Linked DNA regions of Homo sapiens. The protein of the gene in region 1 purifies or fractionates together with the protein of each later gene. This does not show direct contact. Each region holds a gene or a part of one and is shown in the gene's direction. Other genes may lie near its edges.

What was found.
Region 2: the proteins of IGF2BP1 (region 1) and PLEKHA7 purify together in Homo sapiens (co-immunoprecipitation; one large-scale study listed by IntAct). This does not show direct contact.
Region 3: the proteins of IGF2BP1 (region 1) and QKI purify together in Homo sapiens (co-immunoprecipitation; 2 studies listed by BioGRID and IntAct, with this or other methods). This does not show direct contact.
Region 4: the proteins of IGF2BP1 (region 1) and CEP63 purify together in Homo sapiens (co-immunoprecipitation; one large-scale study listed by IntAct). This does not show direct contact.
Region 5: the proteins of IGF2BP1 (region 1) and MKRN1 purify together in Homo sapiens (affinity purification with western blotting; 2 studies listed by BioGRID, with this or other methods). This does not show direct contact.
Region 6: the proteins of IGF2BP1 (region 1) and TDRKH purify together in Homo sapiens (co-immunoprecipitation; one large-scale study listed by IntAct). This does not show direct contact.
Region 7: the proteins of IGF2BP1 (region 1) and ZNF326 purify together in Homo sapiens (affinity purification with mass spectrometry; one large-scale study listed by BioGRID and IntAct). This does not show direct contact.

What each region holds. Positions count from the first base shown.
Region 1 is NC_000017.11:49,052,885-49,056,384, forward strand, and holds the end of IGF2BP1 (insulin-like growth factor 2 mRNA-binding protein 1), read left to right. Parts: 3' UTR 1-3,261; downstream 3,262-3,500. UniProt on the Homo sapiens protein: RNA-binding factor that recruits target transcripts to cytoplasmic protein-RNA complexes (mRNPs). This transcript 'caging' into mRNPs allows mRNA transport and transient storage.
Region 2 is NC_000011.10:17,007,915-17,011,414, reverse strand, and holds part of PLEKHA7 (pleckstrin homology domain-containing family A member 7), read left to right. Parts: intron 1-3,500. UniProt on the Homo sapiens protein: Required for zonula adherens biogenesis and maintenance. Acts via its interaction with CAMSAP3, which anchors microtubules at their minus-ends to zonula adherens, leading to the recruitment of KIFC3 kinesin to the junctional site.
Region 3 is NC_000006.12:163,571,718-163,575,217, forward strand, and holds part of QKI (KH domain-containing RNA-binding protein QKI), read left to right. Parts: 3' UTR 1-3,500. UniProt on the Homo sapiens protein: RNA reader protein, which recognizes and binds specific RNAs, thereby regulating RNA metabolic processes, such as pre-mRNA splicing, circular RNA (circRNA) formation, mRNA export, mRNA stability and/or translation.
Region 4 is NC_000003.12:134,545,057-134,548,556, forward strand, and holds part of CEP63 (centrosomal protein of 63 kDa), read left to right. Parts: intron 1-529; coding exon 530-763; intron 764-1,092; coding exon 1,093-1,232; intron 1,233-2,278; coding exon 2,279-2,416; intron 2,417-3,500. UniProt on the Homo sapiens protein: Required for normal spindle assembly.
Region 5 is NC_000007.14:140,473,006-140,476,505, reverse strand, and holds part of MKRN1 (E3 ubiquitin-protein ligase makorin-1), read left to right. Parts: intron 1-2,016; exon of another isoform or gene 2,017-2,125; intron 2,126-2,678; exon of another isoform or gene 2,679-2,731; intron 2,732-3,500. UniProt on the Homo sapiens protein: E3 ubiquitin ligase catalyzing the covalent attachment of ubiquitin moieties onto substrate proteins. These substrates include FILIP1, p53/TP53, CDKN1A and TERT.
Region 6 is NC_000001.11:151,784,001-151,787,500, reverse strand, and holds part of TDRKH (tudor and KH domain-containing protein), read left to right. Parts: intron 1-3,500. UniProt on the Homo sapiens protein: Participates in the primary piRNA biogenesis pathway and is required during spermatogenesis to repress transposable elements and prevent their mobilization, which is essential for the germline integrity.
Region 7 is NC_000001.11:90,005,110-90,008,609, forward strand, and holds part of ZNF326 (DBIRD complex subunit ZNF326), read left to right. Parts: intron 1-23; coding exon 24-135; coding exon of another isoform or gene 136-139; exon of another isoform or gene 140-1,336; intron 1,337-2,235; coding exon 2,236-2,641; intron 2,642-3,500. UniProt on the Homo sapiens protein: Core component of the DBIRD complex, a multiprotein complex that acts at the interface between core mRNP particles and RNA polymerase II (RNAPII) and integrates transcript elongation with the regulation of alternative splicing: the DBIRD complex affects local transcript elongation rates and alternative splicing of a large set of exons embedded in (A + T)-rich DNA regions.

The sequences.
Region 1 (3,500 bases):
ATATTTTTAAATTCTTTGAAACACATAACCAAAATGGTTTGATTCACTGACTGACTTTGAAGCTGCATCTGCCAGTTACACCCCAAATGGCTTTAATCCCCTCTCGGGTCTGGTTGCCTTTTGCAGTTTGGGTTGTGGACTCAGCTCCTGTGAGGGGTCTGGTTAGGAGAGAGCCATTTTTAAGGACAGGGAGTTTTATAGCCCTTTTCTACTTTCCTCCCCTCCTCCCAGTCCTTATCAATCTTTTTTCCTTTTTCCTGACCCCCTCCTTCTGGAGGCAGTTGGGAGCTATCCTTGTTTATGCCTCACTATTGGCAGAAAAGACCCCATTTAAAACCCAGAGAACACTGGAGGGGGATGCTCTAGTTGGTTCTGTGTCCATTTTCCTCTGTGCCAAAGACAGACAGACAGAGGCTGAGAGAGGCTGTTCCTGAATCAAAGCAATAGCCAGCTTTCGACACATACCTGGCTGTCTGAGGAGGAAGGCCTCCTGGAAACTGGGAGCTAAGGGCGAGGCCCTTCCCTTCAGAGGCTCCTGGGGGATTAGGGTGTGGTGTTTGCCAAGCCAAGGGGTAGGGAGCCGAGAAATTGGTCTGTCGGCTCCTGGTTGCACTTTGGGGAAGGAGAGGAAGTTTGGGGCTCCAGGTAGCTCCCTGTTGTGGGACTGCTCTGTCCCCTGCCCCTACTGCAGAGATAGCACTGCCGAGTTCCCTTCAGGCCTGGCAGACGGGCAGTGAGGAGGGGCCTCAGTTAGCTCTCAAGGGTGCCTTCCCCTCCTCCCAACCCAGACATACCCTCTGCCAAACTGGGAACCAGCAGTGCTAGTAACTACCTCACAGAGCCCCAGAGGGCCTGCTTGAGCCTTCTTGCTCCACAGGAGAAGCTGGTGCCTCTAGGCAACCCCTTCCTCCCACCTCTCATCAGGGGTGGGGGTTCTCCTTTCTTTCCCCTGAAGTGTTTATGGGGAGATCCTAGTGGCTTTGCCATTCAAACCACTCGACTGTTTGCCTGTTTCTTGAAAACCAGTAGAAGGGAAACAGCACAGCCTGTCACAGTAATTGCAGGAAGATTGAAGAAAAATCCTCATCAATGCCAGGGGACATAAAAGCCATTTCCCTTCCAAATACTCGACAATTTAGATGCAGAACATTTCTCTGTATTCAGACTTAGAGTAACACCAGCTGAAAACTGCAGTTTCTTTCCTTTGGATACATAAGGCTTCTCTATCGGGGTACGGGACAGGGAGGAGGCCTCATGTCTGAAGGGGGATTTAGGGGCGAGAGCCCCAGCCCTGACCCTCGGTCCTGTGCACCGCTTTGGGGCACAGTCTGATGGCGCCTTTGCTGGCGCCTTAGTATGGTTGACTCCGGATGGACAAAAGAAAAAAAATTTTTTTTCTTGAATGAAATAGCAGGAAGCTCCTCGGGAGCATGTGTTTTGATTAACCGCAGGTGATGGATGCTACGAGTATAAATGGATTAACTACCTCAATCCTTACAGTAAGATTGGAACTAAGGGCAGGGACTCATGCATAAGGGTATGAATCCCAGCCAGGACAAGTGAGTTGAGGCTTGTGCCACAAAAGGTTTGTCCTTGGGGAACAGGCAGGCCTGCCAGGATCCCCCCCATATCGATTGGGCTGGGAGGGCTGGCCATGAGGTCCCCACTTTCTGCTTTCCTTGCCCATGTGTCACCCCTTTGGCCTCCAGCTTGTCCCTCTCTCACTTTCTATAGCTTTGTTGGACCAGATGGTGAGGAAAGGAATGGCCTCTTCCCTTCTAGAGGGGGCTGGCTGGAGTGAGACCTGGGGCTTGGCCTGGAACCCACCACACAGCCCCAAAGTCAGGAAGCCTGGGGAAACCAGAGCTGAGACCTCTTCAACAGGGTTTCTTTGAGATCCTACACCTCCATTGGGCCCTTTTTCAGTCTTCAATGGGGGCCCAGTTGGCTCTAGAAGGAGAAGAGGTGAAGCAGGATCCTTTGCCCTGGGGGAGTCTGAGGGCGCGGTCCTTGGACTCATTCAGGCCGTCTTTGTAGTTGGGGGAGTTCCACTGGGCGATCCCAGCCCCTCCCCACCCACCCTCTAATGGACCTCCTCATAGAAGCCCCATTTCACTTTTGTTTTATCTACCTCTTAGCAAAACAATAGATAAATTAGGTAGTGGCAGCTCCACTTGCTTAGGTTAGGGGGGGAAAAAGATTTCTTTTTCCAAAGGAAAAAAATATTACCTTGAGAATACTTTCCAAAAAATAAAATTAAAAAAAAAAAAACCAAAAAAAAAAATTTTTTTTTAAAAGGGAGACATTTTCCAGTGACCACTGGATTGTTTTAATTTCCCAAGCTTTTTTTTCCCCCATAAATAAGTTTCACTCTTTGGCGATTTTCTTCACTTGTTTAAGATAACGTGCTAGCTATTCCAACAGGTAACAGCTTTCACAGTCTGCCCCTGGCCTGTCTCACCCCATCCCCCACCCTATTCCTGCCAGTGAGTCCTTCCTGTGCTTCTCTCCCTTCTCCCCTCCCAGCCAGCTGACTTCAGTCACCCCTGTCCCCCCTCCCCTGCCAATAAGCTCCCCCAGGAATAAAGGCTTTGTTTTGGGGATGCTTAAATCTTGACTGGCACTTCCCGGCTGTGGGGGCTGGGGAGCCACTTGTAACATTTCTGTGCAGATTTTATGTTAGCCACTGCTATGTAAAAGCACGTTCAAAATGAATTTCAGCAGATTATGTGTTACCATAATGAATAAACGTCCTCTATCACCATTTGGAGTCTCCCTTTTCTCCAGGATCTTGATCCTGGTCCCCAAAACCAGAGTGAATCAAAAGAGCTTCCTCCCCTGAGGCAAAGTGGATTTGTAAGCAGTTCTGAAACATCACTTACTCAGAAGAGGGAACGATGTATTTTGATGAGTGCAAATTGGGAAGAGCTGGAGGCCTACTGCTTGGGACAGTTTTTTTTTTTTTTTTTTTTTTAAATATGAGTGCTAGCTTATTCTGTAATTGCGGCAACTTTGAAAATTGTATTTTACTGGAAATCTGCCAGCCATCACCACCCGATTTTGATTGTATCCTTCCTCCCATCCTTTAATCTGTTCATTGCTTTGGGGGAGGTGGGGCAGCTGGCTCACACGTTGGAGTTTGTTCTTTGATGGATGAACGAACACTCCAGTTTTCTTTCCCGTGAAGGTTGTTTCAGCCACAAACCACTTCATTTTGCTGTTTCAATTTCAAAATAAAAGGAAACTTATATTGAAAGACAAGTATGTCTGTGTCTCAGGGTTTTTGGGTCTGGGAGCTGAGATGCTCAGCCTCAGCATGGGAGCCCTGGTTCTCAGGGACCTGAGTCATCCAAATGCAAAGTAGGCATTTTTCTTAAATGTACAGAGGAGTGGTTTTTAAATGGTGCCCTGCTCTTAATTAGCTTTGCATATTGGGAGGGGGGCAGGTCAGGTGTTTGGAATGAGGACTCCAGCATTAAAGAAGATGTTGGGACATCACT
Region 2 (3,500 bases), on another chromosome or scaffold:
GAGGGTTCTTTTTTTTGGTGGGAGATTGTACAGCATGTTTGTTTTGATGGGAATGATCCCACTGAGAGGAAGAAGTCGATGCTGCAGTAAAGAGACGGGGCAGTTGCTGGAGCAGTGTTTCTAAGAAGGTGAGAGGGATGGGATCCATGGCCTGCATCTCACTAGCGTCACCCAGGGGCAGGGCCCATCATTCATTTGGCGGGAGGAAGGGCTGCAAGTGTCCCAAAGTACCAGGTGCAGCCTTGGGCTGGGTGTGTGAGGCCGCGTGTGGGACTCTGGAGGCTGGAGCACAGCCTTCCACACCTTTGCTGACTCTTCCATGGTAACTTGTCTGTGAGGTCCCTAATGATTTTCCTACAGTGAGCTCCTGTGCCCCCAGGGCCTTGGCTGACTCCTCCCAGGCCTAGAAAAAGCAATGTGTGACAGTGTTCCCTACCCTCAAAGGCAGGGCCCTGTGGCAGGTGATTGTACTTCTGACGTCCTTCTGTGACAATTTTTTGAGAGACTTAAGGGTTTTGGGAGTAATTGTTCTCTCCCTCATCCCCCGCCCCCCACATGAAAAATGTTTTACTGTTGTCTGATTTCTTAGCTTTGCCGTGAGCATTTCTGAATGTTTGATTTTTGTGTTGAGGGCAGGAGCCTCCTCTAATCTGGCTCATAAAGTGAGAGCGACAAAGCATTGACATGGCTGATTTTATTTTTCCTAATGGCTCCTTGCACAGGAAAGTTGTGTGAGGTTTTACAGGATGTATTCAGTTGCTCCTCATATTTAGCAGATTAAAACATTTTAATTTTTGAAAAAATTTTAAGAAACAGAATCTTCCTCTGTCTCCTAGTCTGGAGTGCAGTGGTGCAATCATAGCTCACTGCAGCCTTGAACTCCTGGGGCCAAGTGATCCTCTCACTTCAGCCTCCCAAGTAGCTGGAACTACAAATGCAGGCCACCATGCCTGGCCAGCAAATGTTTTAATACTCTCCAGAGTCCATTTCTTTTCTTTCTTTTCTTTTTCTTTCTTTTTTTTTTTAAAGACAGCTTTGCTCTGTCGCCCAGGCTGGAGTGCAGTGGCACGATCTCAGCTCACTGCAACCTCTGCCTCTTGGGTTCAAGTGATTCTCATGCCTCGGCCACCCCCTAAGTAGCTGGGACTACAGGTGTGCACAACCATGACTGGCTAATTTTTGCATTTTTAGTAGAGACAGGGTTTCACCATGTTGGCCAGGCTGGTCTCAAACTCCTGACCTGAAGTGATCCGCCTGCCTCAGCCTCCCAAAGTGCTCGGATTACAGGCATGAGCCACTGTGCCTGGCCTCGGAGTCCATTTCTTGAAGCAGAAAAGCTTGAGGTTAGGCAGGTGAATTTTTGTTTTGATTTCTGCACTTTTTGTTCAATTTTGCATTAATGAGGGACAAAATGTATAAGAAATCTACTGTTGGTTCTCCCAGTTCTAGACTAAGTGATGTTGATAACCCCTTTAAAAAGATTTTTTGGCTGGGTATAGTGGCTCATGCCTGCAATTCCACACTTTGGGAGGCGGAGGCGAGGGGATCACTTGAGGCCAGGAGTTCAAGATCAGCCTGGGCAACACGGAGAGGCCTCATCTGTACAAAAAATGAAAAAATTAATGGTGGTATGCTCCTGTAATCCTAGCAACTTGAGAGGCTTAAGTGTGAGGATTGCTTGAGCCCAGGAGTCTGAGTTTACCATGAGCTATGATTGTGATACTGTACTCCAGCCTGGATGACAGAGTGAGACCCTGTCTGTAAATAAATAAATAAATAAATAAATAAAACGAAGACTTTTTGTACTCTAGCACTTCTCTACTATGAATCCCTTAGCTGGGTAGCAAGGTATAATAGTAATTGTGATAATAGTGTCATTAACAGAAGTAGCAATAATAGTAGTAATAATTATATAACAGCCTAATCTTTTTGGGTCTTTGAAAAATGCTAGGAACTGTTCTGTAACTGTCATTGATTTAATTCTCACAATAGTTTGATGAGGTAGGAACTACTACTAGTTTCGTTTTACAGACATAGAATCTTGCCGTAATCCTGGACATTCCTATAGCAGATGGTTTTTTTTCTTGTGTCTTTTCTTATTTGATCCTTATAGCAGCCCCTGGAGGCAGGAGGGGAAGAATCATCCCCATTCTTCAGATGATGAAACTCAGGTCCATGAAGGTTCAATGATTTTGCTGAAGTGTTAGAGCTGGGACTGGAACATAGGTCTTTGGTCCCTCATGTGATAGCCACAGTAGTAGTGGTAGCTCCTACCCCAGGCCATGCATCTTGAAGGAGATGAATGCCCATATGCCATTGCTCTGAGTTAGGCTTCCCCAAGGCTTATGGGGCCAGACTCCATCTTTGCTTTTTCTGGGGATTGAGGTACTTTGGAAGGGCAGTACCCCCTGGTCTCCTATGTTGATTAGGGGTGGTACATGTCTCTGATTAGTAAGAAATTGAAGACATTGATTATTAGTAAATACAATTTGGCAGACACAGCTTTTTCAAACATGGGACCTATGAGGGAGAAGTTTCTAGAAGAGGCCATGGGAGTTAGAGTATTACACTGGGCTGCTCTTCAGGGGTTTCATGGAACCTTGTGAATTCCGTTCCCCCTACAGCAGGCATTAAATAGGTCATGAGGCAATGAGGAGATGGCAGAGAAGAGGGGCTCAGCCACCTTGCCTGTGCCAAGGCTGTTCCTTGAAGGCAGGCATCTTATTCCCCACTTCTGTGACTTAGGCACCCAGCCCAGGGCTGGGAGCTGAGTAGGCACTTGGCATCTCTTGAGGAATCAGTGTTTTAAAGAGACCCAATGAGTTTTCTAGGTATTCCAGGTCTTGGAAAACTCCTTACTGGGAAGGAGATTGGGGTGGAGGAGAATAAGCAAGGTGAGAGAAGCTCAACAGCCAGGAACAGGCCTGTCAAGGCTGGTGCCTAGACCCAGGCTTCTTGGATACAGTCGCTTGCTGTTGAGAACAATGCTCAAAGCAGGAAGCTGGCTGGTGGAGGCTCAAACGGCCTCCTCTGCGTCTTCATTTCATATCCTTATTGCTCTGCATCTGGGACTGGGATACCTGTTGGCTACTGGACTAGGCTGTCTTCCTTCCCTGGCTGCTGGGCCCTTGGCATCATCTGTGACTTGGCACAAGGGTGCTGGCAGGAACCAGCTGATTGCACAAGACCCTTTCTAGCTTCAGGTTTCTCAGTTTTAGCTTTGGGGTTGTGTGGAGCCACCCTGTGTAGGTACTTTCTTCTTGTGGGTGCCTGTCCCCAAGTGAGGACAGCTAGACTCTGGGAAAGACATTTCTGAGGCTTGGAGTAAGGCTAACTTTCCCCTCCCCTAGGACCTGAAGCAGGTCCTAGGGGCAGGACTGGCTACATAATTTGCAGAGCCTCAGTGTAAAATGAAAATGCAAGGCTCCTTATTGAAAAAGAAGGAAAAAGTATTAGCTTGGTGCAAATGTAATTGCGGTTAGTGCTATTACTTTTAATGG
Region 3 (3,500 bases), on another chromosome or scaffold:
ATAAAAAAAAAGAAAAAGAACAAAGAAACCCTTTATTTCATTAAATGATTTTTTCTGGTGGTTGTCAAGAAACAAAAGACCAAAAGAGCCTTTTTGTCTTTCTTTTTTATTTTTTAAGTATTGGAATAAGTCTAAAGAAAAGAAAGTGCCTTATTTTCCTTCATGGTCATTCAGTCAAGTGTCTCATAAAGATCAGCTCCTCCCTCAGAATACAAGTTAATGCATGTTACTCAGTCGCCCAGTATGTGAAAGAAGATATGAGGGAGACAAATGAGTTGATAGTTTGAATTATAGGATTTTTGCCACGTTACCTTGATGCAAATTTGCCAAATCTGATACTGTGAAAAGATTTGATAACTTTTCTAATGCCTGACTAGTAAGTTTTAAAACATCATTCTTTAAAAGAATAGTTTAATACTTTTGGTTATTCCAATCTTCAATGTTAACCCAAAGGATTCTGAGATAAAAATTATGTGTCATCTAAACTTCAGTTTACAGACAAAATTAGAGCTTTGTTTTATTTGGAGAAGGGGGATGCATTCATTTGATTTTGTTTTTTGTTTTTAATTAATTGAATATAATAGGATACCTAGCAAATGTTTTCACAAAAGTGAATCTTTGTGATTTTCATTCTAGAAAACAATGTTTTAAATCACCCAAATTTAATCACATGTCTTTATATCATACCAGATAACTGGTGTAGTGTATCCTTTTACTGTTTCAATAACCTCTGCCTCCCCCACCCCTTAACTTTAAAAGAATGTGAAAAACTAGCATCATAGTGCATATAAATACTCAACCACATTTCAGCTTAAGCTTCTAATTTCTCAAGAAGTTGAAACAGTTAGTTATGTAGTTGAAGCAATTTGTGTGCAAAGCCTACATCTAAACACTTGAGTGAATAATCATTAACTGCTCAGTACCAGACGTGGCAAATCTCAAGTGACAGTGGACCCCCCCCCCCGCCCAGCTTATCAACTCGTCCCCTCTTCCACACCTTCCCAGCATCACAGTCAGAGGTCAGCAGGAAGCTGAGTCATTACCTTCTTGGTGACCTCCCCCACCATCTTGTCTCACTTGGAAACCGTTGTCAGTTTATTTACTATGCAATAGACATTCATTGTTTTGTATCCAGCTAGCTTTGGTTTAATATGCCACTGCTTTGTCTTTCTGTTACACATACAGTTTTGATTTATTTACAATATATGCTGTGCCATTTTGATTTTTATATTGTTTGGTTGGTTGAATAAATTTGCGACACTCAAACACTTGAGGTGATAGTTGTTAAAAACAATACCAGTATTTGATCCAGTTTCATCTCAACTATGTTATACCTGGACATTTTAGATGTTTATCAAAGGTCTTTTATGGGGAAGAAAGTAAATGTATGAAATAATAAATGTGTGACATTTATAGGGAATGTTGGCTCTGAACAAACTTTTGAAAACTTGGTTGACAAAATTTTGGATCAACTGAAAAAAGCATGACTTTTGAAATCTCTGAATGCCTTGGTTCTCAGTATTATCATTCTTTATTGAATTTATTTCTTATTAAAATATGTAGTTTTTAAGACTTTTTTTCTGACAGTATTATGTAATTTTTTAGCGTGGGTAGATGGGAGTGTCGCTTGTATGTTATCGTACAGCTGACATGTATTTTTGTCTATTCTTTATTATCTTAGTTTCATGCTATGTATGTACCATAACCAACCTATTGCCTATGAGAAACATGTAAGATAATGTATTTACAGCCATTGTTACAAGTTTATAATGTATTTTTCTATCTTGTTTTATATGTATGTTATATAACATTCAAAAAGAATTTTTTTCTTGATTGAGAAAAGGATACAAAATGCAAAATCCACAATTTTGATAACTGAAAATTGCCAATTGTTTTGCAGTACTTTATTATATTGGGTGTCTTGTCTTTTTTGGGCTTTTAGTTAGCTAATGAATGAATACATTAGACACTTTTGGGTTTTAGTTGGGATTTTACATAGCTTGCATTTTAATTCTTTGGTTCTTTGCTGTTTCTATTAACCCACAGCATTATTTTAATAAATGTTATAATACCAACCTACTAACTCTGGACTTTGTCTGTTTATTAACCTTTATATGTTTAATTAAAATAAACAAATAAAGACAAAAGAATGTAAAGTCTTGAGTTACTGGACTAACCCTGAAGAACGTGACCACAGATAACATAGTGTGACTTGTTTTTATGTTGTTTGTCAGCTGACAGTTTTGCACACTACTGTTAAAATGGCTTTGGTTATTCTGGTCTTTTAGCTTGGGGGCCGGGGCGGGTGTGGGTGTAGGTGCAGTAGAGATGGGAACAAAGTAGCCTTTGTTTGAGGCATTCTTCTCTTGCCACTTGCCTTTCAGCATCTGCATTACTAATTCCACACCTTATTTTTCCTTCTCCAAAATAATCACTGTCTGCTCACAGCATCGAGTAAAAAGATACATTGTCATGGTATATACCTGGAGAAACCAGTTTGATTCTTTGTTGAACCATTTCTTTTAATTTCTGTAAATAAGTAATTTTATGGTCACATTGTAAAGCAGAGAAACTGTTGATATTTTACCTTTATTTAGATTTTTGTTTTAACTTGACCTTTTTCCTTTGGAAAGCGTTGAACTTGTTTAGCTAACTACTCCTATTAGGGGAGCTTAACTTGGGTAAAGTCAAAGGCCCACTGGCTGTTTCTCATGGTGGCCTGAAGCCCCGCTGCTTTCCAGTGAGGAAAAGAACCCTCAGCACGTTACTGAGCTTTCCTCAGGTATTTTTTTCTCTGTCACCTACTTTACAAATACAGTCAGACTAAAACATTAAACAAGAAGTTTAAGGGGGAATAACATTGGGATTTGAAAAGTTGTATGTGATTAATTTCTTGCATGCAAATCAATTTAAGATTTCTTAAATATCTTCATGCTTTTCTTGGCTGGAACTTGGGTAAATTAACCTGTAATTATGAATTATTTAGTTTAACTCAAGGTGCATTTTTATTTCACAGATTGATACTTGCTTTTTTCTGTGAAACAGTTCTCCTAGATACCAAAATCCTCAGGATGAATTTTTGCATTTGTAAATAACAATTTATCTTTGTAAATTACATTTTATTTATTTAGAGTTCTAAAATTGAGGGCTGAAATGAATGACATGTAATAGAAGACAAAACTGTACCAATACGCTGTTAACCAATCAGACTGTCCAGGTATTCTCATTTCATAAATATGTATACACACATATAAATACACAGAGTAGTGTTAGCTGATGTGAGTGATAACAGCGAATCACCATTGAGATGGTCATTTGGATCATGTAAACAAACCGTGTCATGTCTCTGATGGGAGCGGTGGGTAGTGTACTGTTAGGTGGACAGGTCTTTTAACATGCTACTATTTGTAAAAGTTTCCGTTGCCATAACAGTTCATGTAGTAGTCTGTGAAAATTCGAAGCTGTCTGTCAAGCTGCTAATATACAAGTTGTCATGGTAC
Region 4 (3,500 bases), on another chromosome or scaffold:
AATCTCGGCTCACTGCAACCTCCAACTCCCTGGTTCAAGTGATTCTCCTGCCTCAGCCTCCCGATCCCGAGTAGCTGGGATTACAGGCACGCGCCACCACGCCCAGCTAATTTTTGTATTTTTAGTAGAGACGGGTTTCACCATGTTGGCAAGGATGGTCTCAATCTCCTGACCTCATGATCCGCCCACCTCAGCCTCTCAAAGTGCGGGATTACAGGCGTGATCCACTGCACCCGGCCAATTTTTGTATTTTTTATAAAGACAGGGTTTCGCCATGTTTCCAGGCTGATCTCGAACTCCTGAGCTCAAGCGATCTGCCTGCCTCAGCCTCCCATAGTGTTAGGATTACAGGCGTGAGCCACCACTCCCAGCCTCTCAATTCTTTCTTACCCCTTCGCAATATATATATATATATTTTAGTGAGCCAATGCTTTATGTTTTTATGGAAATAATAGTTTCATTTTAGTCTTATTCATTGATTATTTTATCATTTCCCTTTTACCTATTGATTGATAGTCTGTGTTTCTAGGCTCAGCTTGTCAATCGGAAACAGAAATTAGAGTCTGTGGAACTTTCTAGCCAATCAGAAATTCAACACTTAAGCAGTAAACTGGAGCGGGCTAATGACACTATCTGTGCCAATGAGTTGGAAATAGAGCGCCTCACCATGAGGGTCAATGACTTGGTTGGAACCAGTATGACTGTCCTACAGGAGCAGCAGCAAAAAGAAGAAAAATTGAGGGAATCTGAAAAACTATTAGAGGTATGTTTTAAAATCACTATAATTGGGGGAAGTGTGTGTATGAGTATTTTAAGAGAGTGTTATTAAGCTAGAACTAGGTTCTACAATCCATACTTTCTTCCCTACTTTATAAATGATGGATCAGATATTGATAGTTTTACTAATATTGTGACTTTATTACAATATTTACAATATTGTAATATTGTTACGTAACTTATAGTCTGACTTCCTGGCTTCTCGTGAAATAGAAAAATTGTAATAATAGCTGGCTTAGAAATTTCTGAGTATTTTGCAGGTTCTGCAGGAATTAAAAAGAAGGAAAATTATAATCATATTTGACTTTTTTGCAGGCTCTGCAGGAAGAAAAGAGAGAATTGAAGGCAGCTCTTCAGTCTCAAGAAAATCTCATACATGAGGCCAGAATACAAAAGGAGAAGTTACAAGAAAAAGTAAAGGCAACTAACACTCAACATGCTGTAGAAGCTATAAGGTAAATTTAATCTTAAATATTATTCATCTTAGCCACTTAATGACTAGGTATTAAGCACTAGGCTTATTTTTATTTTTATTTTTATTTTATTTTCAGATAGTCTCCTGTTGCCCAGACTGGAGTGCAGTGGTGCAATCTCAGCTCACTGCAACCTCAACCTCCGAGGTTCAAGCCATTCTCCAGGCTCAGCCTCCCAAGTAGCTGGGACTACAGGTGCATGCTACCACACCTGGCTAGTTTTTTGTATTTTTAGAGACGGGCATTCATCATGTTGGCTAGGCCGGTCTTAAATTCCTAACCTCAGGTGATCTGCCCACCTCAGCCTCCCAAAGTGCTGGGATTACAGGTGTGAGCTGCCACGCCCATCCAAGCACTAGTTTTCATATTGCATATTCATAATTTTATGTTTGATCATATTGTGGATTTTCTTAATTGGCTTTAACTTCTGAGTTAGGTTTTTAAAGTGTTATAAAATTTTGTGTGGTTAATTTTCTTCTGCCACCAGTTAGGGTCCCTAACAGAGACTCTCATGTTTAGAAAGTTAGAAACCAAGGTCAGTTTGCATGCTTGGTGAAAATCCAAATGTGCAGGGAATTGTCATCCATGTCTCCTGGAGGCCTCACTTTGTTGGTGGAATAAGTTGTGATTAGTAGCTGCTTATCATTAATAGCAGCCAGCCATTGGGCTAGCCCTCTTGCTTGATTTAAGTCTGATGCACACTTTTATTTTTGCCAGAATTCTCCTGTAACTTTTCAGTTTTTTTGGTACAGGGTTTCAAGTGTCACTGAAGTGATTTTGCCATTTTGTCTTTTTCCCTTGAAAAAAGGCCAAATCCCAGTTAAGAAGGGAGTAAATTGCTACTTTTTGAAGTATCAGCATCTCTTGACTCTTTCTTTCCTCTCCCAATATTCTTTTTATAAAGCAGGAGACAAACTTGAAGAGTTCCAAAGAGGTTACCAAAAATGATGGGGAAACACAGACTAGATGAGCATTATTTTTGTTTGCAGAGATAAAGGCGTTAACAATCATCCTATGTCTTTCCATAGGCCACGGGAAGAATCTCTGGCAGAAAAGAAGTACACCTCTCAAGGGCAGGGGGACTTAGACAGTGTGCTCTCCCAGTTGAATTTTACCCATACTAGTGAGGACCTTCTGCAGGCAGAGGTGACTTGTCTTGAAGGCAGGTACATAATTATACACACATTTCAAAAATTTCAAGTTGTTAAAATGAATTTTTGATCATCATATTGTAAATGAATGTAATAGTCATAGTAAAAAAAATAAGATTTTTTTCTAGTATCCACAAATGGCCTAAGTTCTTATTTCTTTTTTTTTTTTTTTGAGACGGAGTCCGCTCTGTCACCCAGACTGGAGTGCAATGGCACAATCTCAGCTCACTGCAACCTCCGCCTCCCGGTTCAATTGATTCTTCTGCCCCAGCCTCCTGAGTAGCTGAGATTACAGGCGTGCACCACCATGCCTGGCTAATTTTTATATTTTTGTAGAGACGGTGTTTCACCATGTTGGCCAGGCTGGTCTTGAACTCCTGACCTCAGGTGATCCACCTGCCTTGGCCTCCCAAAGTGCTGGGATTACAGGCATGAGTCACCGCACCCTGCCCTAAGTTCTTATTTCATTGAGAAGACAGAAGCAATTAAAGGAGAACCTCTTAATCTTTCTGTCATCAAATCTACCAGTCTGCCCATACCTGTGCCTTTCTGCACTTCTAAGACCAACCACTCCACTTGTGTCCTTTTTCTGTAGTTATATCCTTTCTCTTCTGCATCATCAAGTTCTTTCTGTCTGCTGAATCTATCCACTGGTATAAAATACGCTGTAACATCACCCATCTGGGGGAAAAACCATCCCTTAATCCTATGTCTCCGTCAAGTTATTTCCACATTTCTGTACTTCTCTTTAAGACCAAATTCTTCAAAAGAGTTGTCTATACTGACTCTACTTCTTTACCTTTCACCTGTTTAGCAGCCCTTCACTTAGGTTTTCCTCCTTGCCACCTCAGAAGCAGGGTAGGAAGGGGTAACAGTTGACACATGGTGATCCTTTTTGTTCTGCTGTGGTGTTGTTACTTCCTTGGGTGTTAATTGAATCCTGACTAATGCTATACCATACCCACCTAAACACTTGTCATTGTCGTACTTATAGAATTTTTTTTGGTTTTTCATAACCTCTCAACTTTTTGATTGGGAAGAGTGTGATATCTTGTTTTAAACACATGAATCATGATCATTTGTACACTGACATTTTCTG
Region 5 (3,500 bases), on another chromosome or scaffold:
CACATGTGTATCTTCCTTTTTTTTTTTTTTTTTTGAGATGGAGTGTCGCTCTGTCGCCCAGGCTGGAGTGCAGTGGCGAGATCTCAGCTCACTGCAACCTCTGCCTCCTGGGTTCAAGCGATTCTCCTGCCTCAGCCTCCTGAGTAGGTGGGATTACGCCCGGCCACATGTATATTTTTTCTGGAACTACCTTATTCAATCATTCAGTAAGTAAACATTGCACGCCAGCAATGGGAGACACAATATTAGGTGTTCAAGAGAGTGCAGATGTATGTACTGTATTATAAATAAACATTTTCAATATGTTTGCTAGGTAAACATCACCTAAAGAATCAGGTAGAGGTGTGTTTTAGTGTTTGTGCTCATTTCTCCCTATAGCACATCACTCCTGTATCTAGGAATTTGACTAAAGCTATTTTCTTCACTTAGAAGTTTTGATTAGAATGTTTTTAATTGCTCGGAATCACCTGTATTTTCCTACTGGTTACATTTTTTCTAATGTTTCTCCTGGGGTTTTCATTGTGTTTTATACCTTTCCTCAGAAACTGTGTTATGCTGCCACCACCAGGCTGTTTTTCATATCTTTTATTAGAGCAATACTAAGAAACAGAAATGCTCATTGCATCTGCTACCTTGAGTTACCTTGAGTGTGTGAGGTTAGAACAGTTAATACTTAAAGAGAAGTTGTAATTTGAATTTAGACCCCTCTTTATTAGAGTGCTTCTATAATGGCAGATAAGTGTTCTGGTAGTTGAAATAATACACAAAAAAACAAGTGTTTAATTTTTAATTTTTCAAAAAACTCTTTTCTTGATTTTTATTTGTATTTATTTGTATTTTTTGAGATAGGGTCTCGCTCTGTCCCCTAGGCTGGAATGCAGTGGCAGTGTCTTGGCTCATTGCAGCCTCCACCTCCCAGGCTCAAGCAATCCTCCTGCTTGAACCTCCCCAGTAGCTGGAATTACAGGCACGTGCCACCACCCCAGGCTAATTTTTTTTTGCATTTTTGATAGAGACAGGGTTTCACCCTGTTGCCTAGGCTGGTCTTGAACTCCTAAGCTCAAGTGTTTCACCCGCCTCGGCCTCCTAAAGTGCTGGGATTACAGGTGTGAGCCACCATGCTTGGCCTTGAAAGTTGTGTTTTGTTTGTTTGTTTGTTTGTTTTCTGAGATGGAGTCTGTGTCGCCCAAGCTGGAGTGCAGTGGCACGATCTCGGCTCACTACAACCTCTGCCTCCTGGGTTCAAGGAATTCTGGTGCCTCAGCCTTCCGAGAAGCTGGGATTACAGGCACGTGCCATCACACTCGGCTAATTATTTGTACGTTTAGTAGAGATGGGGTTTCACCATGTTGCCCAGGCTGGTCTTGAACTCCTGACCTCAGGTGATCCACCCACCTTGGCCTCCCGAAGTCCTGGGATTACAGGCATGAGCCCCCGTACCTGGCCTCAAAAGTTTTTAAAAATGTGGTTAACGTAACTTAAAGATCAGCTGGGCGTGGTGTCTCACCCCTGTAATTCTAGTACTTTGGGAGGCCAAGGCAGGTGGATCACTTGAGGTCAGGAGTTCGAGACCAGCCTGGCCAACATGACGAAACCCGTTCTCTACTAAAAATACAAAAATTAGCTGGGCGTGGTGGCGGGCACCTGTAATCCCAGCCACTCTGGAGGCTGAGGTGGGAGAATCACTTGATCCCAAGAGGCAGAGGCTGCAGTGAGCCAAGATTGCACCACTGCACTCCAGCCTGGGTGACAGAGTGAGATTTCGTCTCAAAAAAAAAAAAAAAGAAAGAAGGAAATCCTTCAGAAATTCTTTATCTGAGTGCTGTGACGTCCATAGTGAAATTTATTACTTGGAAACTACATAGTGGTTGTGAGAGGAAATAAGTAATAAATATTAAATGGTATTAAAAAGATTATGCAACTGGGAAAGAAAAATTAATTTGCTATCGCTACCATGATTCACCATCACATCTAGCTGTCTTCTACAGCCTTTTATTTATTTATTTTTTTTTTGAGACGGAGTCTCAGTGGCGTGATCCTGGTTCACTGCAACCTCTGGGCCCCCCCCAACCCACTGCGAGTTCAAGCAATTCTGCCTCAGCCTCCCAAGTAGCTGGGACTACAGGTGTGTGCCACCATGCCTGGCTAATTGTTTGTTTTTTTTGTATTTTTAGTAGAAACAGGGTTTCACTGTGTTAGCCAGGATGGTCTTGAGCTCCTGACCTCATGATCCACCTGCCTCAGCCTCCCAAAGTGCTGGGATTACAGGTGTGAGCCACCGCACCTGGCCTAATTTTTGTATTTTTGGTAGATAGTGGGTTTCACCATGTTGGCCATGCTGGTTTTGAACACCTGACCTCAGGTGATCCACCTGCCTCTGCCTCCCAAAGTGCTGGGATTGTAGGTGTGAGCCACCGGGCCCACCCTACAGTCTTTTATTCTTTCTTTCTTTCTTTCTTTCTTTCTTTCTTTCTTTCTTTCTTTCTTTCTTTCTTTCTTTTTTTTTTTTTTTTGAGACGGAGTTTCGCTGTTGTTGCCCAGGCTAGAGTGCAGTGATACAATCTTGGCTCGGTGCAATCGCCATCTCCTGGGTTCCAGCGATTTTCCTCTCTCAGCCTCCAGAGTAGCTGGGATTACAGGCTTGTACCATCACACTCGGCTAATTTTTGTATTTTTAGTAGGTACCGCTTTCACCATGTTGGTCAGGCTGGTCTCAAACTCCCAACCTCAGGTAATCCACCCGCCTTGGCCTCCCAAAGTGCTGGGATTACAGGCATGAGCCACCGAACCCGGCTTTCTACCTTTTTCTAACAAGTATATATTATGTGCACAGATAGTTGGAGATAAAAAGGGGAATAAACCAGTCTTTACCCATCAGGAATTTATAATCTAGTTTGATAAATGGTATACTCACTCATTAAAAGTTAAATATCAAAGTAAGAAGTGTCACTGCAGATGAATTGATTAAATGCCTTATCTATTCTATAATTTGTAGAAATTCCTAAAGAGGTTGTTAAGATGCCTAGAGATACTCTGAGGGTGCTGTTTGGTTCTCTTGTACCCTTACAGGGTAACTTGGCAGTTTCTTGTTCTCTATGTTGGGGGCCACTATTAGGTTTCTAAGAGGCACAGCAGTAGGGGGATTCTAGTAAATTTTGTCTTTTACTGCACAGTGTCTCATGGAGACAGAGTCTGCACAGTGGAAGGAACTTCAGAAATAATATATGGCCCAGGTTTTCACCGAAGGCAAACTCAACTTGGGGTGAATCTGGATGATGTTTTTTTTTTTTTTTTTGGTGGTATCATTTAAAAACAAGACATATACTTATATTCATTGGTTTTTGTTTGGAGGAGAAATTCTTTGACGTAGACTATATCTTTTTTTCTTTTTCTTTTTCTTTTTCTTTTTGAGATGGAGTCTCTCTGTTGTCCAGGCTGGAGCGCAGTGGCTCAATGGCACGATCTCGGCTCACTGCAATCCCTGCCTCAGCCTCCCGAGT
Region 6 (3,500 bases), on another chromosome or scaffold:
TCACGCCTGTAATCCCAGCACTTTGGGAGGCCGAGGTGGGCGGATCATGAGGTCAGCAGTTCGAGACCATCCTGGCCAATATGGTGAAACCCTGTCTCTACTAAAAATACATAAATTAGCTGGGCATGGTGGCAGGTGCCTGTCGTCCCAGCTACTCATTAGGCTGAGGCAGAAGAATCGCTTGAACCCGGGAGGCAGAGGTTGCAGTGAGCTGAGATCGTGCCACTGCACTCCAGCCTGGGCAACAGAGTGAGACTCCGTCTCAAAAAATATATATATCTAAAGTAATCAGGGGACAAAAGAAGTCAAATTCTTTCTAGACACCAAGAATAAACCATCTCAATGTAGGAAAGTAGCAGTTTGGGAGGTGTGTATTCAAGAATTATTTAAGTCAAAAATCTCCTTTATGAAACAACTTGTTTCCTTTCCTTTGGTATATACAACGATGCTTATATAATACCATCCAAACTTTCAGGATGGTGAAAGCTTTTATTTGCAGTGTATTTAAAAAAAGAGAAGCTTATCCAATGACTTGGGAAAAGAACCTCATAAATGAAAACAAACAGCCTACATTAACCTCAACCCTTTCTGTCCTACATTCTAAAAAGGTCGGGAGAGAACAGTATTCCCTCAGATTGATAGTCTCTAAAAATGATATACTGAATTCACTGAGTAACTAATGACCCAAAATAGACGACACCCTTGAAAAGAGGTACCCATCCCCCACCTCGGGTAGTAAAAGGCCGTTTTATTATTTGCTCAGGCTTTTGAGTCCGGGCAAGAAGGTGGATTAAATTTGTTTAAAACCAGGATATAGAAAAAATAGATTTGGCAAACTTCTGGTAGTTCTCTGAAGAACTTTATTCAGTTCTGTTGATCAGTAAAGCTGTGAGGCCAGATGCAAATTCTGGTCATCTGTATGACAGTGTAGTAGTCTACCCTTCTCCGTGGTTTTGCTTTCACTTACCCATAGTCAATCCTGGTCCAAAAAGATTAAATGGGAAGTTCCATACGTAAACAATTCTTAAGTTTTAAATTGTGCACCATTCTGACTAGCATGGTGAAATCTCCATCCTGGCCCAGACGAGAATCCTGCCTTTGTCCAGCATATCCATGCTGTATATGCTACCCGCCTCTTAGTCACTTAGTAGCCATCTTGGTTATCAGATTGAAAAAACCTATAGTTTTCAGTACTCCAAGGCATCCACTGGGGTTCTTGGAACATATTCCTCGAGGATAAGAGAGGATGACTGTTGTAAGAAATCTACCTCCAGCCTCCCTTACCTGACTATATCTGCTCCTCAGTGAGATTTCGGTGCTAGATGTTCTCCTTTCTCTCTTTACTCTTCCAGATTGACTGTGCTTTCCCTGAAAGCCTAAGTTTTATTCCACAGTAGGTTTTGTATTAATGAGTATGTTTTTAGCCTTACCAGGATATAGCCAGTTTTTCCCCCCAGGGTGAAATACATTTTTGTTTATTATAATTATTTGGGTTGAATTTTTGTACCTGGAGGTAAATTATGGCATAAGTTACATTTACTCATTTTTAAGCAAATCTTATTTAAAGCCAGCTTGCTTTGTTCTACTAGATTGTAATATCTGGAAATACAGATATTTAGTTTTCAGTTTTTTATCACCTATCTTTAGTTTTTTAGTCTTCAGTGTTTTTTTAACCACCTACAGTACTTTCTACCAGTATTAATTTTGAATTGAATATGTTGATCAAAATAAAGAATAAAAATACAGGTGCTGTTACCCTAAGAGCTTAGGTAAAAGGAAGAGTGGGGAAGGATTTCTAAAATCACTTTACAAGGTTTTTTACAAGCAAGAATAACCCAGACTCTGGGTTAGAGATTAGATAACCTCTTCAAGCATGGGTACTCTTCTATGGGATTAATATTTCCTGCCTTACAGGGTTATATGACTGTAAAATAAAATTATGTAATTTGCCTGGCATAGTAGCTACTCAACACATTATCTCTTCATTTTTGTGTCTTTAGTGCCACAGTAGCATCTAGCACATAGTACTTACTCCAGCTCTTGTGTTGAGAATAAACTGAATGGACAATGGCAAAGGCAGGAACGTAATTAAGCAATGCAGTAATCTAGGGAAAAGATAATGGTGTTTTAGAGCAGGGTCATAGAACTGCAAAGAGAAAAAGTGGTCAGATTCTGGATGATTTGAAGGTAGAGCAAATAAGATTTGTTGACAGGCTAGGTGTGCAGTGTGAGAGAGAGGATGACTAAGGGAGTAAGAGAATGCAGTCGAGGCAGAGCACAGTGGTTCACACCTGTAATCTCAGCACTTTGGAAGGCTGAGGTTGGTGGATCACTTGAGCCCAGGAGTTTGAGACCAGCCTGGGCAACATGGTGAAACCCTTTCTCTACAAAAAATACAAAAATTAGCCGGGCATGGTGGCATGCACCTGTAGTCTCAGCTACTGGGAGGCTGAGAGATGGGAGGATTGCTTGAGTCCAGAGGTTGTGGCTGCAGTGAGCCATGGTTGCGCCACTGCACTCCAGCCTGGCAACAGAGAAAGACCTTGTCTCAAAAAAAAAAAAAAAAACGAATTGCCATTTGCTGAGATGGCAAAGATTATGGGAAGGGGGTGAATCAGGAGCTCAGTGTTAAGTTTGAGATGTCTATTAGACATCAAATGGAGATCCATGTAGGCAGTTGAGAAAGGTCCTAAATGGATCTATTAATTTGGAAGTTATCAGCATCTAGATAGGAGTTAAAGCCAGTCCGTGAATGAGACTTGAGATCACCAAGAAAGTGAGGTAGAACAGAGAAGAGGGCGAAGGACAGATCCCTGAGGCACTCCAGTGTTTAGAGGTTAGAAAAATGTGAAGAAACCAGCAACTGGGAGACTGATGGAATAGCCAGAAAGGAAAGAGGAAAACCAGGAGGGTGTGCTATGGAGAATGTGTTTCAGAGAAGAGGGAATCATCAGCTGTGCCAAATACTGTGGGGACATCTGGTAAGATGAAAACTGAGAATCGATCTTTGGATTGAGCAGTATGAAATCATTGGTGACTCTGATGTGAGCAGTTAGAGTGGATTTAAGAAGAGAACTTGAGGACAGATATATTGACACTCGAGTTTTCCTTTAAAAGGAAGAAAAGAAATGGGAAGTAGTTGAAGTGAAATCCAGGAAGGGTTTTCTTTAAGAACAGAGAATGTTTGTCTGCTGATGGGACTATCCAGTAGAGAGGAAAGAAAACGTTAATCATGTAGTAGAAGCAAGGAGAACTTGTGGAGCAGTGCTTTTATGAAAGACTTCAGTGCTAGGAGCAGAGACAGTTCATCTGTGGTCACAGGAGAGAACAGCAAGCATTTAGGCACAGGTGGAGGAAGGTGGGCAAATGTGTAGAAGCTTGTGGATATTTTCTCTGAATGCTCTCCTTTTTTAGTGAAATAGCAAGGACCTCAGTTGAGAGAGGTTGGAGGAGGCAGCACGAGACGTTTGAGTGGAGAGGGAGGCTGAGAAACTATGTGG
Region 7 (3,500 bases), on another chromosome or scaffold:
TTTTTCTTTTTAAACTCTTATAGGGATGGATCGTGACTATGGCCATGGATCCTATGGGGGTCAGAGATCCATGGATTCCTACCTAAACCAGTCATATGGCATGGACAATCACAGTGGTGGTGGTGGGGGTAGCAGGTAAATTGCTTAATCATTTGGCCAAATAATTAGACAACTATAAGATTTTGGATATATTATTTTAAGTACTCTTTAGGCATGTTATGATACTTGAACTTCACTGTTTGCTATTGAATCATCACCTTAAATATTTAAAGGTGTTAATTAATGGGTATAAAATTTAAATCAGTATTACTGGCAGACGTTATTTTAGGAAAACACCAGATAACTATATCATGTCAATATAATAGAGTAAGATACACTTTTTAGCAGTGAACTTTTAAAAAATTCTTTTACTTTTAACTTCTTGTCAATCAAAGTATCCTGAAAAATGATATAAAAATGTTATTGAAAATATTATTTATGAAGCTTTTTCTTAATAATTAAAAAAAATCTTTTCTAATGTGGGGTGCTATGTAAATTAGCAAAGCAGTCTAACTAGAATGGATTTTACTGAACCAGTCTAACATTTACTTTCCAAGAAACATTCAGGACATATTCCTTTAATTCTAATTTTAAAGGAAGAGCATATTGCAATAATAAAAATATTTTTAAAATTATGTTCAGGTTATTTATTGACAGGTACTACTTACACCAAAGCACTTGTGCTCTAGGCTAGAAGCATTGTATTAAAGCCATGAATACTATACCTTTGACTAGTCGAGATTGTATTTATATTTTCCTGTTACTACTGTATAAAGCTTAAACCTACTTAAACAACTACAAGCTTTAAGGTTGACCATATTTCAGGAGAAGGGGTGTCTACTTTTTGAGGCACAAAGGTTCCTGCTGAATATAAGTAAAACTAGTTAGTAGACATGTGAAACAGTCATCCTTCTGCATAAATTGAAGGATCCGGATTCCTTAATGATGGACTGAATGATGCTTACTTTCCTTCTTTCTGCTTCCAGTGTACCACTATGGTTTATAGTAAAGAAAAATTAAGAAAGTGAACAGTTGCAACTATTTTGCTTATGTGATAGATGTTTTGAAAAATGTAGTTGGAAATAGGAATAATTTTTATATGGTTACTAGGATTCAGAAGTAAATCTATTTAGTGATCTGTAAATAATTGAAGTAATGTAACACTTAATGTTTTAATATGTCAGTTATTGCCCTTTTATATTGTGAATGTAATGTGCATAAGCTATATCCGTAGATGTTATTGTTTTATCTCATGTGTAATTGTGGGCCTTTATAAAATTGTGTTGTAAGATATCAAGCAACTTTTGTAATCCATGCTTTGGGTTTGTGAGAAGGAAGATGATTTATTTCTTCTGTTAACTCTCTTAAAACCTCGAGGAGACTGTGTGCTCCCTTTTTTAGGGTAGTTTTATGTGATAATTTCCTGAAGGAAATAATTTTGCAAATAATTGAATATATTATAAGATGTATTCTTTCTCATCTGCCTTGAAAATTCATATGCAGAGGGTATATGTTGGTGATCTTTTATGTTTTATCTGTTTATCCTTCTAGATTTGTTAGATTTTCTAGTCTACAAGTAAAAAGTGATTGAGGATTGATTAATTGACCTTGGCTGAAGTTTGGCAGATTGTTAAATTTTTATAACCAGAGATAATTCCCCAAATTTTGACTCCTACAGACACAATGAAGCAGTTTGTGATATAGATTATTGGGAGTGCAAAAGGATCTCTCTGTGTCACAAATAACCTACATCTAAGTAGACTTCAATTTGTGTCCCTATTGAAAGCCAAAATATTGTAAATGTTTTGTAATTTTTAATATTAGGGATAGATTCAAAAAAGTTTGAATAGTTTGTGAACTTTAGCAAATGACCTTTTCCAAGACTAGGGCTGGGCTTAAATAATGACAGACAAATCTTTTCTTCTTCATAAAATAGAAAAGCTGCTAAGAAGCAGATTTTAAAGCTAAGTTTTACTAAACTCAATTCATATTTATAATCTGACTCAGATAGCTTTCTATCTGGTCTCACGTTGAACTGCCCAGCCCTAATCAAATGTGAACAAAAGTAGAACTGTGCAAACCAGTATGGTATAAATGAATTTTAGTTGATAAATGTCATCTGATAATTTGTCTTTTGAATTGTCTAACATTAGTAAGCTTACTTTTGTTTTTTCCCTCACTGTGCAACTTTTCCAGGTTTGGACCTTATGAGTCTTACGACTCCAGGTCTTCTCTGGGTGGGCGAGATCTGTACAGATCTGGCTATGGTTTTAATGAACCCGAACAAAGCCGCTTCGGAGGTAGTTATGGTGGTCGATTTGAGAGCTCCTACCGGAATAGCCTTGACTCTTTCGGAGGTAGAAACCAGGGCGGGTCTAGCTGGGAAGCACCTTACTCCCGTTCAAAATTGAGGCCTGGGTTTATGGAGGACAGAGGAAGAGAGAATTACTCTTCCTACAGCAGTTTTTCTTCACCCCATATGAAGCCTGCACCTGTAGGCTCTCGGGGGAGAGGAACGCCTGCTTATCCTGAAAGTACGTTTGGAAGCAGAAACTATGATGCTTTTGGAGGACCATCAACAGGCAGAGGCCGAGGCCGAGGAGTAAGTACAACAGAATCTTTTCAGATTCTTTTCACTAGTCACTCTTTTAAACCCTTTCAAGACCATCGTTTTCAACTAGAATAAACACTGTTCATCCCGGTGTATTTTGAAGCAAAAGCTGAGTCATAAACATAATTTTTAGGTTGACTGTAAAAGTTTTTCTAGCACCTCAGAAAATAAGTGGCAGTTTGAGATGATCATAAAGTTGTGCCAAATCTCCCTTTATTAAAAAGGTGAGGCTACTGGTTTGGTCTAAAAGGGGTTAAAAGGAGTTGCATTTTCCTTGTAAACACTAGCAGTTTTGCTGGTGGAATAGTTTGTGGATTATTGTGAAAGGTCACTGAACCCTTTTTGAGTTTTTGAGTAGGTTAAAGGTGCAATGTATGATAAAATGTTTATACTTTGTGGCTAAACTCTAGCAAGTAGAATTTCTTCAAAGCTCCATGTTTCACATTAAACACAGGAGACTAAAAGTTGATGATAGATCAGGATAGCTTAGCCATGTTTATGTGGTGAAGAAGTTGATGTGTATAATAGATTGTACAATGATTTGTGGTCAGTGTAATTTTGCTAACTCACGCTTACAATATGTCCAGTTGCTGGTTGTTTTATTTTCCCTCGTGTTACTAGTTTTACTCTTGAGAAATAATTTCCACCTGTACAGATATGTTTATGGTTTCTTCTTAGGAAGTAATATTTTGTAAATTATTGCTTAAATGAGTAAATATACTAGTCCACAGTTGTTTAAGTTTAGGGTACATAGTGTAAACATTATGCTTTATGTTCTTAGGTCACTTGATTGACATGAAAATTTACCTAGTAAGTGTATGCAGATTGTGGGGTTATTATATAGTTTGAT